Linked DNA regions of Homo sapiens. The protein of the gene in region 1 interacts with the protein of each later gene in a pairwise test. Each region holds a gene or a part of one and is shown on either strand. Other genes may lie near its edges.

Region 1 (9,060 bases):
ATGGGCAGCGGTGATTTATGGAGCTGACTAACGCGCGCTGAATGCGGCCTGTCAGAGCTCTGTGAATGGCTTCCCTTCGCCGCACAAGCCCCGGCTTTGTGTTGCTAAGCGATTAGAGCAGATGTAATGAGATTTTGCCCAATCCTCGCTTTGCCCTTTCCTAGCTTAGGCAAAATTGTGTGTGTTTTTGTGAATTTTTCGAGTTTGCCTTCGCATTGTGGCAAACAACGACTAACTTTGCCTCGAGTTTAACGAGACTGGATATTTCCCATTCAGAAGTGAGTAAAGAACACCTGTCCTCACAGGAGAAGGAAAAAAAAATCCCCCTTTGTGGGGGCTGAAACATTATCCTAATGTTATATTCATAGCCATAAATGACTTGCTACACTTTCTTTGCATACCTTATCTGGAATCTTGCAAAGGAGCTAAATTAAAGGAAAGAGAAATGGAGAGTGGGGGTGGAGCCCATCTCTGGTCCTCCAAATGAGAAGATAAAAATAAAAGCAGGCATCACAAAAGCATTACTTCTCTCAAGTAAGCTCTAAATTGGCCCACTGCTGGCAGAAAGTCCGATTATTTATGGCGATGAGGAATTTACTGATTTTTTTTCCTTAATTACGCTCATCTCTTTGAAAGGGACTGAAGCCTCAATGTGCATTCTATAGAGGGTCATTTAGCAAAATGACATCAGACGCTGTGGCGTGCTCCGCGCATCGTGGCTTTAAAAAATGATTATTCTGTGCCACTAAATGGTATAGATGTACCAACACAGACTAGATTTTTAACTCTGGAAGACGTGCTGGCTACCCGTTCTTTGTTGGGTTTTGTAAGATGCATTTTGCGCTCGGCTTTCCGCTTGGCTGGAGACACGCAAACTGAATCTGCAAGTAATGCAGGCGGCGAGCGAGGAGCCGGCGAGAGGCCGAGTAGGATTCTAATCACGTCCTTGCTAACTGACAAGAAGCAAGCCAGCCAAAAACCCACCAATTTCTTTTTGAATCTTGGTAATTGGGTACTTTTACACGCAGCTCACGCTATTCGGATAGAGTCACAAGCTTAGATAGACCAGTGTCTCAAAGCGACCACACATTTCTAATGCGTTTTTTTAATTAAAATCTCAATCCGTTTGGAATGAATTCATATCATATATGCCTCTTACTTAAAATCAATATAGCAAGTAGGTGTATTGGAGAAAATGAGTAGAAAATGTATGCCTGGAAGTGAGGGAAGAGAAACATACTCACCACTAGGAGCTTGTATGTGGAGAGGGATGCCTCTCCAACCCCCATCCCAGAACCACCATCCTCCCCACCCAGACCTAGTCTCCATTATTTCATCCAGCCCCACCATAGTTTCACAGGGAGAAACTCAGAATGGAGTTGAGAATTGGAAAATGGTGGAGGACCCTCTCTTTCTGGTTCACTTTTTTGGGGGATTTTAAATTTTGATCAAAGGATAATGCAGCCATCTATTCTTTTTGGTGGGCATGTACATTTGCAGCATAGGATAGAAAGAAAACATATATACATGTACATACACACACACACACACACACACACAAACACACACTCATTCATCATAAAGAAACCATTTGGATGGGACTGGCCATAGCACTTATCATTGTCATTTCTGCCACTTAGCATGTTTTGCAACATTTTCTTCTCCATCCACCTCTTCCCTTTGACATTTTCATAAAACTGGACCAGGGGCATCAGAGTCAAAGAAAGCTTAGAGTCAGCTGATTATTTTCATTTTAAAAAAAGGAAAAAGTTTTATTACGAAACTAGTTTGTATAAAACAGGGTTATACATATTTTTGTAAGTTTGTAATAAAACAGTAAGAAAAAAAAAGGCAGTAATAGAAATCTCCAAAAGGCAACCTATCAAAACCAACTGGCTGCCACTTTGAGTTTGGACAGTAGCTGCATAAACTTTGTTCTTCTTGAACAGTATTTAATAACATCATTAATACATTAACAACATTTCTATAAAGTAAGACACATTGGTGCTGAAGTACAACTGGTGGCCTCTTGATCTCACCTATGAGGAGAGTTCTTTACAAAACCACATAGGGAAAATTGCAGTTGTAAGGTGAACTACACATCTAAAATATGCAGAGGTAATAGCATTACATGTTAAAGTATCAAGATATACACATTTTAAACCATTTGTACAAAACTTCTATAAATTTTTCTCTCTCTTTCTCTCTTATGTACAAAAATATCTTAATATATCCCCGAACTGGTTAGGATAGATACAAATAGATTTTTTATAATAAAAAATTCACAAAAGATTGGAAGCATTCTATAATGAAAATGGTAGAAAAGACAGTGTGAGGGAAGCCATGGGGTTTGGGAATCGGGCCCTGGAGGAGAAGCAGAGTTTCAAAGGGCTGAGAATAGCATAGTTTCACTGTAAACCAATGTCTACAGCTTATTGGGGTGGGGGCTACTGAGACGAAAGACACCAACTCGTTTCTAGAGGGCTAAGAACTGCACTTTAAGAAAGGGCGAGGAGGTGAAGGGACCCGAGCAAGAACTTTCAGCTGTGCGTGTTAGAGGTGATGGGAGTTACTATAACGCGTGTGCTGCTCCCTTCTGCCAGGAGCCCACTGCTTTTGCACACAAGCTGCATTTTGCGCATTGACTCAGGTCCCAGTTGCTCTTCATATCTCCGTGAATGATTGGAGTGCAAAGATACTGTTCTGAGCGCTTCCCGTTTTCTGAAAGCCATGTCTCTCAGGCATGCCTCGCTTAGTTGGCGATGGGGTTGGTTGACTGTTTTCGTTTTTTTCTTCTTCTCTTTTCTTCTTCTTCTTCTTTTTTTTTTCTTTTCCTTTTCTCCCCCTCCCAACGCCACTGACAAGAAAGCACTAAAGATGCAGGTTGTGCGATCACCCTATAACATAAGGAAAAGAACAGGAGAGGTTAATTTGAACGTGTAGGCTAGTGGTAGAGGGAGATGGAGGTCTGGGGAAAGAGTCTGTCAGGTAGACATCTCTTTTAACATGTCCCAGTATTCGGTTCACCAGTATCTCTGCACCTCACTACTACCCTTCACTCCTTGGAGACCTGGGCAAGGCCATTTTCAGAGGCCAGTGCTGAAACTAACAAACTAGGACTTGAAATCGACCAACTTTCACAAATTCTTTAAATAAAAATCCCCTTATCTCCTTGGAGACATCCCCACTTCCACAGACACTCAGAGGGAGGACGAAGGCAAGAATACCCCCCTGCCCACCCCAAAATGCAACCTACCTGCTTCCAAAGTCCATTCGCACCAGGGCCTGACCAGGCCGAGCCCCTCAGAACCAGTTGGTGAAGTCGAGAAGCTCCTGCTCCTCGGGGCTGAGCGGGTCGTAAGAGCCCTCGTCCGACGAGTAGGATGAGACCGGCGAGCCGGCCATGGAGTTCAAGTCGTTGGAGTAGTTGGGGGAGATGGTGGGCGACAGGACGCCTGCCTGGAAGGCGGCGCTCACCGCGTCATGCTCGTCCAGCAGCTGCTGCAGCGCGCGGATGTACTCGACCGCCGAGCGCAGTGTCTCCACCTTACTCATCTTCTTGTTGGCCGCGCCGTTGGGGACGTGCTCCCGAAGGGTGGCAAAGCCCAGGTTGACCAACTTGACGCGGTTGCGCTCGCGCTCGTTGCGGCGCGCCACGGCGGCCGGCTGCTGCTGCGGCAGGCTGTAGCCAAAGCCGCTGAAGTTGAGCCGGCGTTTGCAGCGCATCAGTTCGGGCGAAGACGAGCGCTGTCGCTTGACTTGCTTGGGCGCTGACTTGTGACCGCCCCCTGAGGGCTGGCCGTCGGCCGCCGGTCTCAGCTGCGGCGCCTGCTGCTGCTGCTGCTGCTGCTGCTGCTGCTGCTGCGCGCTCTGCGCTGCCGCTGCGGCGGCTGCGGCCGCCGCGGCTGCGGCCGTGGCAAAGAAACAGGCTGCGGGCGGCAGGAAGGGCTGCTGGGGCTGCGGCTGGGGCTGCTGGCCGGCGCCGCCGCTCTCCATCTTGGCAGAGCTTTCCATGCGCAGCGGCGGCCAAGGAGTCGCGGAATCAGAGCGATCCGGGACGCGAGGTGCGGGGCCCGCGAGGGGGACACAGAGAGAACTTGGGTGCAGGAACAGAGAGGGAAAGAAAAGGAAATATGAAGCGGGAGCCCTGACGGAAGTTAAAAAATATATACAAAATCCCCGGGAGACTTCTTAGAGTGGGAGCAAAAAAAGTGAAAATGCTTTTTCTCCTCCCTGCACGCCGCCTCCTCCTCCCTCCCCTCCTCCCTTCGCGGGTTGGCTTCGGGAGCCTCGCGTGGCGCTCGCGTGTGAGGCTGCCGCTGGCGCCTTCTTGTTTCTAAGAAAAAAAAAAGCAGAAGCAGCAGCAAAAGTCAGTGCTGAACGCGCTCTGCCGCGTCTCGCGTTCCTCTCCTACTAAGGCTGCGCTCTCTTGCGCCGGGTCTCGGTCTCTCCAGCCGTGGCTCAGGCTGTTTTTATTATTTTGTTAACTCCCTTCCTTTCTGATTTCCTTCTTTCACTCGCCCTCCCTGGCCGGATCCCTGTCGGTGCGCCTTCCACGTTCCCTGGCCAGAAGTGAGAGAGTGCTGGGCTGCCGGAGTGCGTCCGCCTTTTCAATGGGACACCCAGCCCCACGCGCAGCCCTGGCCCCGCCTCGCCCCCCACTCCCCGCTGCTGCAGCGAGCGGCTGCAGCCCCCACTCCCCCCCCTCCTCTTACCTCTTCCTCCCACCCACTCCCTAAACTCCCCCTCCTCCTCTCCTCTCCCCCCCTCCCGTTCCTTTCTCCCGCTCCTTGCAAACTCTCCATTCAGCTGGGTTTGTTGTTGCAGTGCGTGCGCCTGGCGCGTGCCGGACTCCCGGCTGAATAAACAGGCGGCGCGCTCGGGGCGGGCTGCTGCCGGGGGTGGCTTTAGGAAGGGGGTGGGGGGCGTCACAGGAGGGACAAATGGCTCTAGGAATTGAGGTGTATAGGTGGAAAGACTTGGGGTGAAGCTCTCTTGGATTCTACTAAGAACTTGAAGCAAAGCGCAGGGAAGGGTTTGGGCAGAAAAAATGGCACAGGAACGGTGTGGAGGTGAGGAGGGAGTGGGGCTCGACTTTTCCTGTTTTCTCTCTCTCCTCACTGTTATTCTCTTCGGGTTCCTCGGTGACCCTAGAAATTGGAGCAAATTACGATTGAAGTTTAGAAACATGGTTGGGGGAGGGACTCCGTCCAGAACAGTGAAAAAAAGTGCTGGACTATGTGAAAACGTGGGTTCTAGTCCCAAGGCGTCCTCTCAATGCTCTGTGGCTCCTCGAAGTGGCATCCTCTCTGAGCCTTCGCTTCCTCGTCTGCAGCCACAGAATATGGTCTCTAATGTCCCATTCAGCTCTAAAAACTAGGATGTGCTCCCCATAACTGAGCAAGTGTGTGGGGGGCCGCGGGGAAGCGACACCGAGGAGTGGTTGTGAGCCGTCCTGTAGGTGGGTGTATATGGCAGGGACGTCCCCCTAGGATGACCTCTGGCCCCCTGTACCATCGCCCCCTACCGCCACCCCCTCCCCATAAAGATTATTTCCGGACCAGCTTAGCGGATATCATAAAGAAGGGAGTGCTCTGGGATACTCCCAGACCCTCGGAGAAGAAAGATGCGGGGCGGGGGTTGAGTGATGGCGCTTAGGGCACTGGTGGGGATTCCTGGTTCTTCGGCGCCGCCGCGGGCACCTCGGCGGCCTTGGCGCAGCCACCATCCCGCCCCAGGCGTGTGCCCGGCGGCCCGGTGGCAGGCGACTGGGAGCGGAGCCCGGCGGGGCCGCGTGCTGGCGCCGAGAGGGAGGGGGAGGCGCTTGCAGCCGTCGCTCGACCGCTTGGACAGCGCCTGCCCAGGCGTCCTTCCTGGGCCTTCGGCCCTGGCGCTCTCTGGCCAGAACCCCGTCCAGCTTCAGGACGTCTGGGGACGCGGCGCTGCGGAGAAAGCAGACCAAGCAATAGGCCCCATCTCTTTAAGGATCTGGTCCGGAGAGAGGCTGGGGCATGTCTCAGGTCTTGTCTACATAGGCAGAACGAAGTGGAGGGCAATCATCCATTTGATTTTCCAGTAGAAATAATCCGAGATCTGGGTGCAGGAATGATTGTGGTGAATTATCCGGATAATTGGTTCTAATTGAACTCCCCTTTGTGGAGGTGGATCTTTCTAAAGGGCCAAGGGGATGACCCAGGGAGCTGCTCTTGGTATGTGGGCTGGCTGAGTGTTTCTGGAACAATAGTGATGATGGTGGGCAGTAATGACGGGCGGCTCCCGAAGTGAATCACCTCTCTTCTCTACCTCAGTTTCATCTTTGCAGAATAGGTAGGCTTCAGAGGTATAGGACCAAATCGTGCCAACAGAGGTCAATTCTGTAACCTTTCCCAGCCACACAGCCCCTTCTCCCCATGGTAACCTGTGGCTTGATGGCCTCACAGGACTGGCTGAACCCCGTGGGATTCACACCTCAGGCCTTTCTCCACATCCCTGACCAAGGAAAGGGCCTAAGAGGTCTCTGGAAGTATAGGAGGTGAGCACCCAAAAGCAGAGTCACAACACAGCCTGGGCACCCTGCACCTCCCAGCCAGAGTAAGCCTCAGACCACTTGCAGAAATAGGAATTATTCAGGCACTCCTTACCCACCTCCCACATGACCCAGCTGTGTCCTAATGCCCCATTCACTCTATTTCAGCCAAATAGTTGAGTGTTGGGGGTGGGAGGGAGTGTCGCAAATGTGGAAGCATCTAGATGTGTTTTCTTTTACATTAAGCTGAAACATGAGCCCCAAACTCCCTACTAACTTGGACTCACTTCACAAAGGTCCCGAGTCTGAGCTCTACCACAATGGTGCCTTATAACCTTGAACAAGTCCCTCTGCCTCTACTGGCCTCAGTTTTCTGATCTACACACAAGGGATGTACAGTAGCTAATTTTGAAACTTGTATCTAACAGCTTAGAAAATTTGCTGGTAGCCAGCACGTGTTTCCTTTTCCAGGATGCATACACAGAGATCTCAATACCAGGGAAGTAGAGGACAGAACCTCCTCTCCTCCTCCCCCCTACACACACCATGAAATGGGTGCCCAAATGGAGTGGAAGTGCATTGTAGTGAAGAAGCCTTGTCTTGTAGTGGCCTTACTCATTGGCCTCAGGCCAGGAGGAAGGACAGTCGTTGCTGGGATCCTTCTGGCCAAAACCGCCAGAACATTTGTCTCTATTCTCCCTATGCCAGCCCTGAGCCTGACCTCACTCTTCTCACCCTAGTATGCTAAGTTTTCTTCCTTACATGCTTTGCAAAGCCTTCCAAGAACCGAGGCGTTCTCCTCCCCCCACTCAAGTAAACCTGGAGTTTGCACCTCAACACTGTCATCTCCACTTTCTCCTCCAACCCTAGGGTAGAACAGTCTATAATTTTTCTTTAGAGGTTTGCATTTCTATCCTTGGGGATTCTACCAAGAGAGTTTTCCATTGATATTGGCTTTCTGGTTGTTTTCACCAGTGTGAAGCAAAAGATGGGAGGCTCAGGAGCCAAAATTAGAATCCTGCCTCTGACTGTGTGACCTAGATTATAATCCCTCCTCCCGACCTGAGAGAACTGGCCACATGTTCTGCTCTCCTAGGCCCATGGAATTCCAGATAAAGCAGGCTGATTTGACTTGGTATCTAGGCCCCTTTACCTGAGAGCTGTGTGACCCTGAGACACTCTAGGGGTCTCTATTTCACCTATGCCAGTAATTATAGTATCTACCTCCAAGAGTTGTGAGACTTCAATGATATGTATGTAGAGCACTCTAGCCCAGGTCTAAAGAGAAAGGGATTAATAAGAAAGTCATGCTCACACAACCCACCCAGGAAAGGGTGTGTGGCAGGAGGAGCCTCAGCACTTGGCTTCCTGGAACCACTCTGTGATCATCACTCCAGCCAATGGAGATCCAGTGCCACTCTGTCTCACTGTCCCAGCACCTAGGGGTGAGTCATTCCTGTCATTTTTGAGAAATGGTGGTGATACTGGCATATTAAGATGATGGAGATAGTAACCCGATTTTTAGACATGAAAAGTAGCAAGTAAGATAGACTATAGAGATGTTCTGTGGCCTCCACATGCAAGGGGCTTCAGCAGAGCCACTGGGCCCTGCTTTCTTGGCTCCCTTGCCACACAGTGGGCCTGATTCTGAGCAAGTCCTTAGGGCTTTAGTTGGCTAAGACACTTGAACAATGTCCCATTTATCTTCACATGAAGGGAGAAGTAAACAACTCACAAAAGGAAGGTTTGATACCTTCATTCATAAATGAGGTGGTAGTACTCCCTTTGCCTGTATGTCAAGGGTGTTATGAGAATTAAATCAGATGTTGTTGGGTAATTTGCTTTGCAAGTCTCTCCACATATCAGAGATTGCCTTTTCACTTTTTCCGAATAGCAGCATTCAGTGTTCTGTCTTGTCATGAGGGTGGGGGAGTGGGAAGGACAAAGCACTGATCCCCTTTGGTGAGTATCACCCAGAGTACAGACATTGCAGAAAGATAAGAAGGCTTCTCTTTCTCCTCCAATACAATAAGGGACTTAATTTCTGCACCTTCAGACCCCTTTCCTATATCAGAACACTCTGGAGCTGAACCATACTTCAGATTAGACTTTATCTTCATTCAGCATCAGGATCTGTAGGGGGAGATGGCTTTCCTAGTGGCCAAAGGGGTCTGCTGCCCTGAGATCAGAGACCCTGTGCCCTGAGTCTCCTGCCACCTTAATTTCCATTCACAGCTGAAGGCCAGGCCAGTACCACCTTTGCTGAAGCTCAAGACCTATGTATGTTCTCTTGATTGTGTGTTGTCTCTCTGTAAAAAGAAGATATGACTCATCTCTTTGAAAACCAATTTATGCTTTCTCTTTGGGGAGAGGGATTGATATTAAAAGTGAAACTAGGATTTTCATTGGACAAATAATTTAATAAAGTTATATTTTTAACTTTAGTTAGATTCTGAATCAGGGGCAAAGGGAATACAAAGATGAACACAAGTCTTGGATTCTGGATTTTGTTACAGGATTTTAAGTGTAATCCT
Region 2 (8,585 bases), on another chromosome or scaffold:
GAACTCTTGGCGAGGCTGGTTTCACCATTAAAATCATCTAATAACTGTACATGAAACATTTCCTCCAAACTGAACTTTCATTAAGACTAAGGAATAATCTACCTGCAATTCAGAACTTTGAGTAAATGACTTTTAAAATTCATGGATGGTATCATTTTGTTTCTTTGGTTCCATTTCTGGTTCTAAAAATAATATATTTATTTAATAACATCAAATCTGTGAAAGGTTTTGATTTTTTTGGAGAAAGAAGTATATTGAACTTAGCAATCATTAGAATTGACCCACGACTGTGTAAGAATTAGATACTTGCTCTGAATGTGACCCAAATTTAATGGACTGAAAGTATTATTGAAAAATAATTTTAATAACCATCCCACCAAAAATTTCTAAATCACCATTAGCAGAAACTTAAAATGACTAAAATATAGTACAATGCTATGATAATAATTTAATATTTACTGATCATTTACTATGTATCTGCATTACGGTTTTATATGTATTATCCTAGTAAATCCTTAAAAAACTTTAAGAGGTGGGTGATTTTATAATTCCCATTTTACAGATCCTGGTACTGGGGCTTTCTGGTCATTAAAACACCTGCCTAAAACCACTAATCAGTAAATGGGAGGCTGGCTTTTGAACCCAGTTTTGGTCGTTGTTCTTAATCATTATTCTTTATTGTTTATGGACATGTTTGTCTAATAGCATAATATGTAGAATCAAAGAAATGATATTAAGTGTGGAAATGGAGTCTCCAAACTCTTTATGCTTGTTTAAACGATCTTCTCTCTCGAGAGTGTATCTTCATCCTTTCATGCTTTTTCTCTCTCTCTGCTCTCCCACACCGATGCTCCCCACACCGTACACACATACACACACACACACTCACACCGTTGGAGTTCTGGTCTAACACTTACTTCATAGAGCAACCTAAAAGGCATAATGTGGTTGACCTTGTCCAATAACTGTACCACTTCCTGGGAGTTCATGAAGCTGTTCATGTTTGCAACGAATATACCATCCAGTGACTCTAAAGCTGCTGTTGTTCTTTACAAAGACATGATCCTATAGCCCTGGCTATTTCAAGATCAGTGTCCGCAGTTGTTTCAAGACATGGCATTGGGCTGTGATGAACCACATCAGTTTCTCAAGTGTAAGGAGGTAAGTTAGCATCTAAAACAATTCTGTCGCCCATGTGTAGTCAAAACAAGTTAAAAGTGCACTTGCTTTCACGATACCAAATACTTTGAAGCAAGAAGGAAGCTCAGACAGGAGAGAATCCAAAAACAATGAAAACGGAAGGAAAAAACACTGAAGTCAAGAATTCTCTGATTTTTTTGAAGCTATAAAATGAGAGAAGCGGAGGGAAAAAATCACATAACGCTCACTCTAAATCAAGCAAGATCAAACAGTCTTGGAAGGGATATTGCCGATTCATTTCAACCCAAGAGTCATAGGGAAACAATTAATGGGTACTGAGTATCTTACTCAGCCTTCTGCAAATCTATCAATGTCGTCACGGATTTTTTTTTTTTTTTTTTTTTTTTTTTTTTGGTTTATGTAAAGGGGGAAATATTCAAACATGAAATGAAAGAAAAAAATAGTCAAAATTATTTACTTTAACTTCTAACCTATATAGAGTCTAAGTGAACTTCCAATAAATACTAGAAATAAAAAAAAGATTCACTTAAAAATAGACAAATTTGTTAGATTTCATTTAGTTAAGAAAAATCATCCAGAATAAATTAGGTCTGGATTTATATAGTACCTTTTAAAGATATTAATGTTAACTGTAATAGAAGGGTGAAAAGATCTACTTTTTTAACCACATAAACCTTTACAAAAAGACCACCCAACAACTTAATAAGGCTCCTCAAATATGGATGAAAATCCGGTACCTTAAAGAAGTAATTGTTTTAATGGTTAACAGAGTTTAAAATTTCCCAAATTCTTGACCAGAGAATTACTTACTAGGCGAACCTCTAATAGAGTCAACGTTTTAATCGGGTATAGTTTTATCATACTTAAATGGCAAGATAGCGAATTTTCTATTTTAAAATTTCTATTCCATACATATGTTCAATAGTTGAAACTTTACAATGTATCTGACAATACCAACGGGTATGATTCAAATGACCCTACTGTTCCAGAGAATTTCCAAGAAAATAAAGAAATCTCTTACAATAGCCTAAATAGAAGCATAGTTTTAATTTGAATTTTTAAATGTGTGTAATTTTCTAACAAATAAATGTCAGAAAGTATTGACTCATATATATATTAGCATTTACAAAACAAAGTTTAACATCTTTTTCCTCCCTTGCTAATGGGTCTTGAAAAAGTGCCAGGTGTAGGAATATGCCATTGTTATCATATTCTTATAAGCTGCCTTATACATTTTTTAAGATCTATGTTGTATTAATTTCTTAACAATTTATCGGGAACATTTGCATTCACAGAAAAATAAATGCTTGATATTTAAACATAATTAAAATTATCATTCTTATCTATTTAAGTTTCAAGAGAAATAAAATTAAATTACACTTAACTGTTGGTCTAATTTGGTAAATTTCATATAGGCAATTAATAATTAGTGTAGTGGGTTAACAACTAAGCTAACATTTATACACTATTCATATACTGTTAAATCAATAATTTAGTTTAAAAATAAAATTAGAACAAATATTTATTAAGTGGTAACACTTTCTCCTGAAGGCTCCCATTTAATACATTTCTAAAGAAGAAGGCTAGTTTTAGAAAGGTGTGCTGGCAATAATCTGATTGCACCTCATACAAATGAGAATTCTACTGATTGAAAGGAGCCATGGCAGCTAGAAATTATTTTTTAATAGGATTTTTTAAAAATCACATGGGTAACAGTTGAAAATGTAACTGGTAATTAAAGCCTGCTTCTTAACAAAGTTTTACTTTATTTTTTAAGGAGAAGTACAAGCTTTTAGACTATAGTTTCAGATACAAGGAATATTAGTGCAGATATTTAGAAGTCAATTTATTTTGCATGGTATTATACACAGAACTTACACTGTACCTTTCAAATGAAAAGCATAAAACAAATCTGAAAACTAAAAGCTCACATTTTCTCCCCCTGTACTCTCTATTTTGACCTAATAATCATTTAAAGTGTGGGTGTTTATCAATAAAAATTTTTGCAGCACCACACATTGTGGTGGAACGTTGCTATTTCCCGAGATAAGTACAAAAAACCTCAATGCTAATTTGCATCACAAAATGATCTAACATATCTGGAATATAATGCACAAGCTTCATTGAAAAGAAACCATTATATTTTTCTTTTCGAAACAAAAAGTACAGATATCTGATTGGGTCTGGGTGTGCTGGAGGTAGGGGGTGGGGAAGAGGTCTCATTTTCTATCTCACACCTATTGTTTTATGTATTCTAAACTGCTATATGGGAATAAAAAGGAAACATACTGAATCCACTTTGCAGTTAATGTCTTAGTAATTTAAGAGGCAGAATTTTCAAGTTAAAGAAGGGAAACATTATACTTTTCCTTTCCCAAAGGTATTTCCCCTATTTCCCAGGAAGAAGGCCCTCTGTTCCTTACCCTATGTAGGGGGAAATAAAGGACATTAGTTAGGGCTGAAATCACTCCGAGACAGAAGAGGGGAAGTTTATGATGTGGCACTGTGCACAGTATCTGGTCTGCAGCCAGGAAGTTTTCATTTTGTAGCTCTGCTGCCAGTACCTGCCCTGCATATTCAGGAATAAAAATATACCAGAACTCTACCTGAAAAACTGTGGATGTTACAAAGAATTAAAAGAGTTTATTTTTCTTTCTTTATCCTGAGTGTAATTACTGTTTTTTAAAAAGAAAGAGCTGAAACTGTAGTAACTGGAGTTTTTTTTTTTTTTTTTTTTCCTTTTTAAACTCCTCAAACTACCTTCCCACAAAGCCATTTAAGTTAAATGGTACATTTACAGACTCACCTACATGAAGGATATAACTTAAAACATCTGCTTAGACACATACGTTCTGTTCAGATATAAAAAATGTGGCAAAAATTTTTAAAAATATAGGACCACTATATTCTTAAAATGTGTGTTCTTCTGTGTGTGTGTGTTCATTCATTCAAGAGATCTTTGACTGCAATTAGGTAGTCGGTCCTATAAAGGCTTCCTTGTGTGACGATAATTTCTAAAAGTAAAATGCTCCAGTGAATATTTCTGCTAAATAATCATATCTTAAAATTACTTTAAAGAAATTCCAATCCCTCATGTTACATTAAGCAATAATGCCAGTTTTCCATAATATGCCTTAGTTGTACCACCTTATTCAGGGTCGACAATTAATTAGAAGACAAAAAGTATAAATCGCGTGTTTATTAAGTAGCAGACAAATTTCTTTGTCTGTCTCAACATATTTACATTAATGTGTTTATTTTCTAATTTTGAAAATAAATAAGCATATTTAAGCCAAAGCTGCCTGTCTTCGGGGTTTGGGGAAGGATGCACATTCTCTTGCTATCCTTCTAACTTGCTGAAAGAATCACAGGTGTGAAAAAAAGACAGGCATAGTTCTTGGCTGATTTTTAAAAAAACACTTCACATTCTATCGAAGGACCATATCCACTTCTTTTTTAATCCAATATGCTAGGAATCCATAGTATCTGAGAGCAATTTATATGAATTCTTCATGTGCATCTTATCTATGACAACAAGATAGAAGAGGAAAACCAGACCACCACGCTCATGATGCTATTTGGAAAAAGCAGGTTCTCAAAAGGGACTGATTCAAAGATCAGTTAGTTCCTCCAGCCTCTAAAAACAAGTTTTGGGTACTTAATTTAAATCACTGCTTGAGGACTTGCACTGTCATTCTACATGAATCCCAACCACTTGCAGGAGGAACAACATTGCTCCATTCATTTCAAATTTACAGCATTAAGAATTAATAAAGTCTTTATAATGTCTGCATTATTTAAGAGTAATGATTCCTGAAGAAATCTGCCTGTAATATGTTTACTGTTTTTATTGCTTGTAATGTCGTCAATTTCCTTTTCAATGCCCTCAAAAGATTCTCTTCATGTACTTTGAACTTTGTTTACATTGGCTGTATTTTAAAAATATATACCAAGATTTAACTTGTACAATAAAATGACAATGTACAGCAAATGAATTATGGCGATGACAAATAAATGTTACTCATATCACCTAAAACTAAACCATAAATTTGTATAACATGTATCACCTAATTTCCATATTTAATAGGAATATGATTTTTTGCAGTAAACATTAAAATAGTATCAAGGAGATGTGAGATAATAGTATATTAAATAACCTTTTCTATAATCTTATTTTTACAATGGTATTCTTTGTCATAGAACATTCTTTAATTATTTTTCTTTCACAGACAAAAATAACAAAAGAACATCAATGCCATCTTCGTATTCTTAAAAGAGAGGGGTAAGGAATGAATGCTTCCAGCACCCTTTATTTTGTTATGCCTCAATATTGTCTGTAAAATAACATGGTTACTAAAAAATTCTTGATTTGAGCAAGACCAAAATTATTACAGTGTACTTTACAGTTATTTCACGCATGAATGTTAAAACATACTGAAATTATAAAACTTTCATAGACTTTTTTTCAGTATTCAGTTTAAGATAGGTTGTCAATAAGAGCTACTTTAAAAAAAACTGACAATTTTCTTTGCTCACTAACTATAGGAGATCATTGCAAATTATTTTCTTTCTCATGCTGCTATTCACTTACGTACTGCATATTTGCTTCAATTCTCCAAGGGAAGAAATGTGGCTCTTGTGGGAAAGGTCCACCCCTTTCTACATGTTTGCTTCCTTGAACGAAAGGAACACACCCCCTTACATTCTTTGAAATGTGTCCAACAATTGTAATAGCACTGTATTATTGACTAAATTAGAAAATCTTAAGTGATAGTCAAATATTGTTAATACACTGTGTATTTTGAGTCAGGAGAACTAAATGACACATATACAGAATGAAGTTCAATCTAGTGTCTACACTTGGATGCTATAGAATGTTTGTGTTAGTAGAAGAAACTCATGAATGTTTTTGTGTACAGGTATGTTGTATGACACCTCAGGAAGAGGCCCATGAATGTTACAAGTTTTTGATGGCCTCCTTTCAATTTAAGACCCATTACAGGAATGACCCCTTTCTTTCATAAGTATATTGGATAAAAAACATTTAGAAACTTAGGAAGTAGAATCAGAGAGCTGTTTGAAATCACAAACATGCAAAAATATCACAGGTCTACGCTTACCATCCTAATGGCAGAAAACTCACACCAAAGTTGGCACCCACTAACTTCTACCTCATTAAGGCAAGCTGCTGGTCATTGGATATTGTGTTCTAACACGACTTCCCTTTATGTAGAATAATATGTTTCCTTCCAAGGAAAGTTTTTCTTTTGTTGTTATTTTCTAATAAATATACTCCATATTTATAGAAAATTTTGCATTTATCTTTGATTTTATCTTTTCTAAATAGTCTTTCTTTATTCCACTTTTACAAAGAAATTTTCAAGTGTAAAGACACAGCAGGAAAAAAAATTATATCTCTTTTAAGATATTTTAGTGTGTAAATGAAATGGATAGTCCTTGTGCAATTTATCAGGCATTTCAGAATGAACCCAACTGTATAATTCCCAGGCCTACAAAATGAAAGCTTTGTTATTTACCTATGTTTCTCACTTGAAATAAGAGTGAATATAAAGAGTGAATATATAACTGCAACTGAAGGTAATAAACTTGTTAAAACTTAGTAAGATATTGTGATGGTCAAAGAAAACCTGCAAGTGCGTGCCACAAATCCACTCAGATGAAACATCTCATTCACTAAAATTTTCTATCTTATTATAATAGTGCACAGAAAATTAAACACATAAATATTAATTTTATGTATCACAGATGATGTAGGCAATGAAAATGCAATGTTTACATTTATGGGTGACTCATTAGTGTTTTATTGTGTGAAACACTAGGAGGCATCAGTTGGGTAAAAAAGGACTTCAATTTTAGAAGAAGCAAAAAATTACTGTAAAGTTGGGTGTGTAAGAAGTTAAGATTTTCAAAATGTTATTATGTAAACCAAAACTTTATTCTCTGAAATAAACTCTCAAAACATCATATTCTGTTGTAAAGAATGATCTTTATATAACATTCATGAAATATATATATTATATATATATATAAAATTTGACCAATGAACTTTTATGAAGATATGTTTCACATATATGGATTCATAACTATGTAATTACACATTTTTATGTAGAATATATTTGGTAACAGAATAACATAATGGATATTGACTATTATGCATTTTCTGCTGAATTACTCAATAACATGAGTGTATGTTTTATTTCTGGCAAATTCTGTTTTGTGCTCTTTATAACGCCTCTGAAAATGTCTAATGCATTTAAGCCTTACAATACCTGCTTCATGTAAGCAGACAATTTAATGTTTGTTCATAAAGAAATGATGGAACTTAAAATTTACACAATGAAGACATACATAAAAAAGGACATGTTTTCTCTTACTTCACTACTGAAAGCCTGTCATTTGAAAACTGAATTTTCCATTGTTTGAATGGATCATAATGATGAAGCAACAGGGTCAAAGTATGCTTATCTAAGCAATCATTTGAAATTGAGTGTCTTGCCATTCCTCAACAATCAGCTTTTATCTTTGACCTATCAAAATAACATGTGAACTATGTAATCTGCCTTTTGTAACGTGCATAGACTCTGTTGTTCCTGGTTTTGTGAATCACCTCTGTAATCTGGTTTGATTTCCTAAAGGTGACAGATCTCGGTGAACAGTCAAGCTTTACTGAGTGCAAGACAGTCCACGCGCCTATAAGATTAAGGTACAGTGCTAAGGACGGGGATCTTAATTACCTGTCTTTCCACATGCAGCATACTGATGGAACAACAGTGATTAAATCATTTCATCGTGTCTAGGCAATCACCACATTAGTATAGAATGAATACGTGTATTTTGATAAGTTTTAGATATTAATTTGTGTGGTATTTTCTCAGAGGATGTGCTTTTGAAAAAAAAGTGTAACTTTATTAATAATCTCTTAACAGTTCATCTTGTGACCATTAATTGCATATTAAATTCTTCTATGTTGCTTCGAATCATGTCCCCAAAGCCAGAATTCTGTTTAATAACTATGTCTTTGTTGTTATGTAGCACAAGTATTGCTGCACAGCTATTTCCCCATTTTTGTCACTTTCTGAGATTTCATAGACTCAAATTATACCACACTTTAGAGTTGAGAAATAAAACCACAAAATATACTACAATAAACAGAAGAAAGTTTTAAAAGATAATGTTAAGATATGCTAAGGAGTTATTCAGTGCTGTTCTTTATAAAAGAAGTTTAAATAAAGTATTTATTAGAAAGATACGTTTGCAGTGTTATGGAATTTATTGATTCCGTTAAGTTAGGGCCAAGGAAAAAATTTCAGGTATCTTTTCCCCCAAATTTTTCAAAATGAACATGTTTACAAAGAAGAAAAGAGGCAAAGTGCCTCTTGTTATCTAAGTTTCATGGAGTTATC

What was found. The genes of interacting proteins can lie anywhere in the genome.
Region 2: the proteins of ASCL1 (region 1) and MEF2C interact in a two-hybrid assay, tested with the Homo sapiens proteins (one study listed by BioGRID).

The regions. Positions count from the first base shown.
Region 1 is NC_000012.12:102,953,199-102,962,258, reverse strand, and holds ASCL1 (achaete-scute homolog 1), read right to left. Parts: upstream 4,586-9,060; 5' UTR 4,015-4,585; coding exon 3,304-4,014; 3' UTR 3,257-3,303; intron 2,898-3,256; 3' UTR 1,746-2,897; downstream 1-1,745.
Region 2 is NC_000005.10:88,872,186-88,880,770, forward strand, and holds part of MEF2C (myocyte-specific enhancer factor 2C), read right to left. Parts: intron 1-8,585. UniProt on the Homo sapiens protein: Transcription activator which binds specifically to the MEF2 element present in the regulatory regions of many muscle-specific genes. Controls cardiac morphogenesis and myogenesis, and is also involved in vascular development.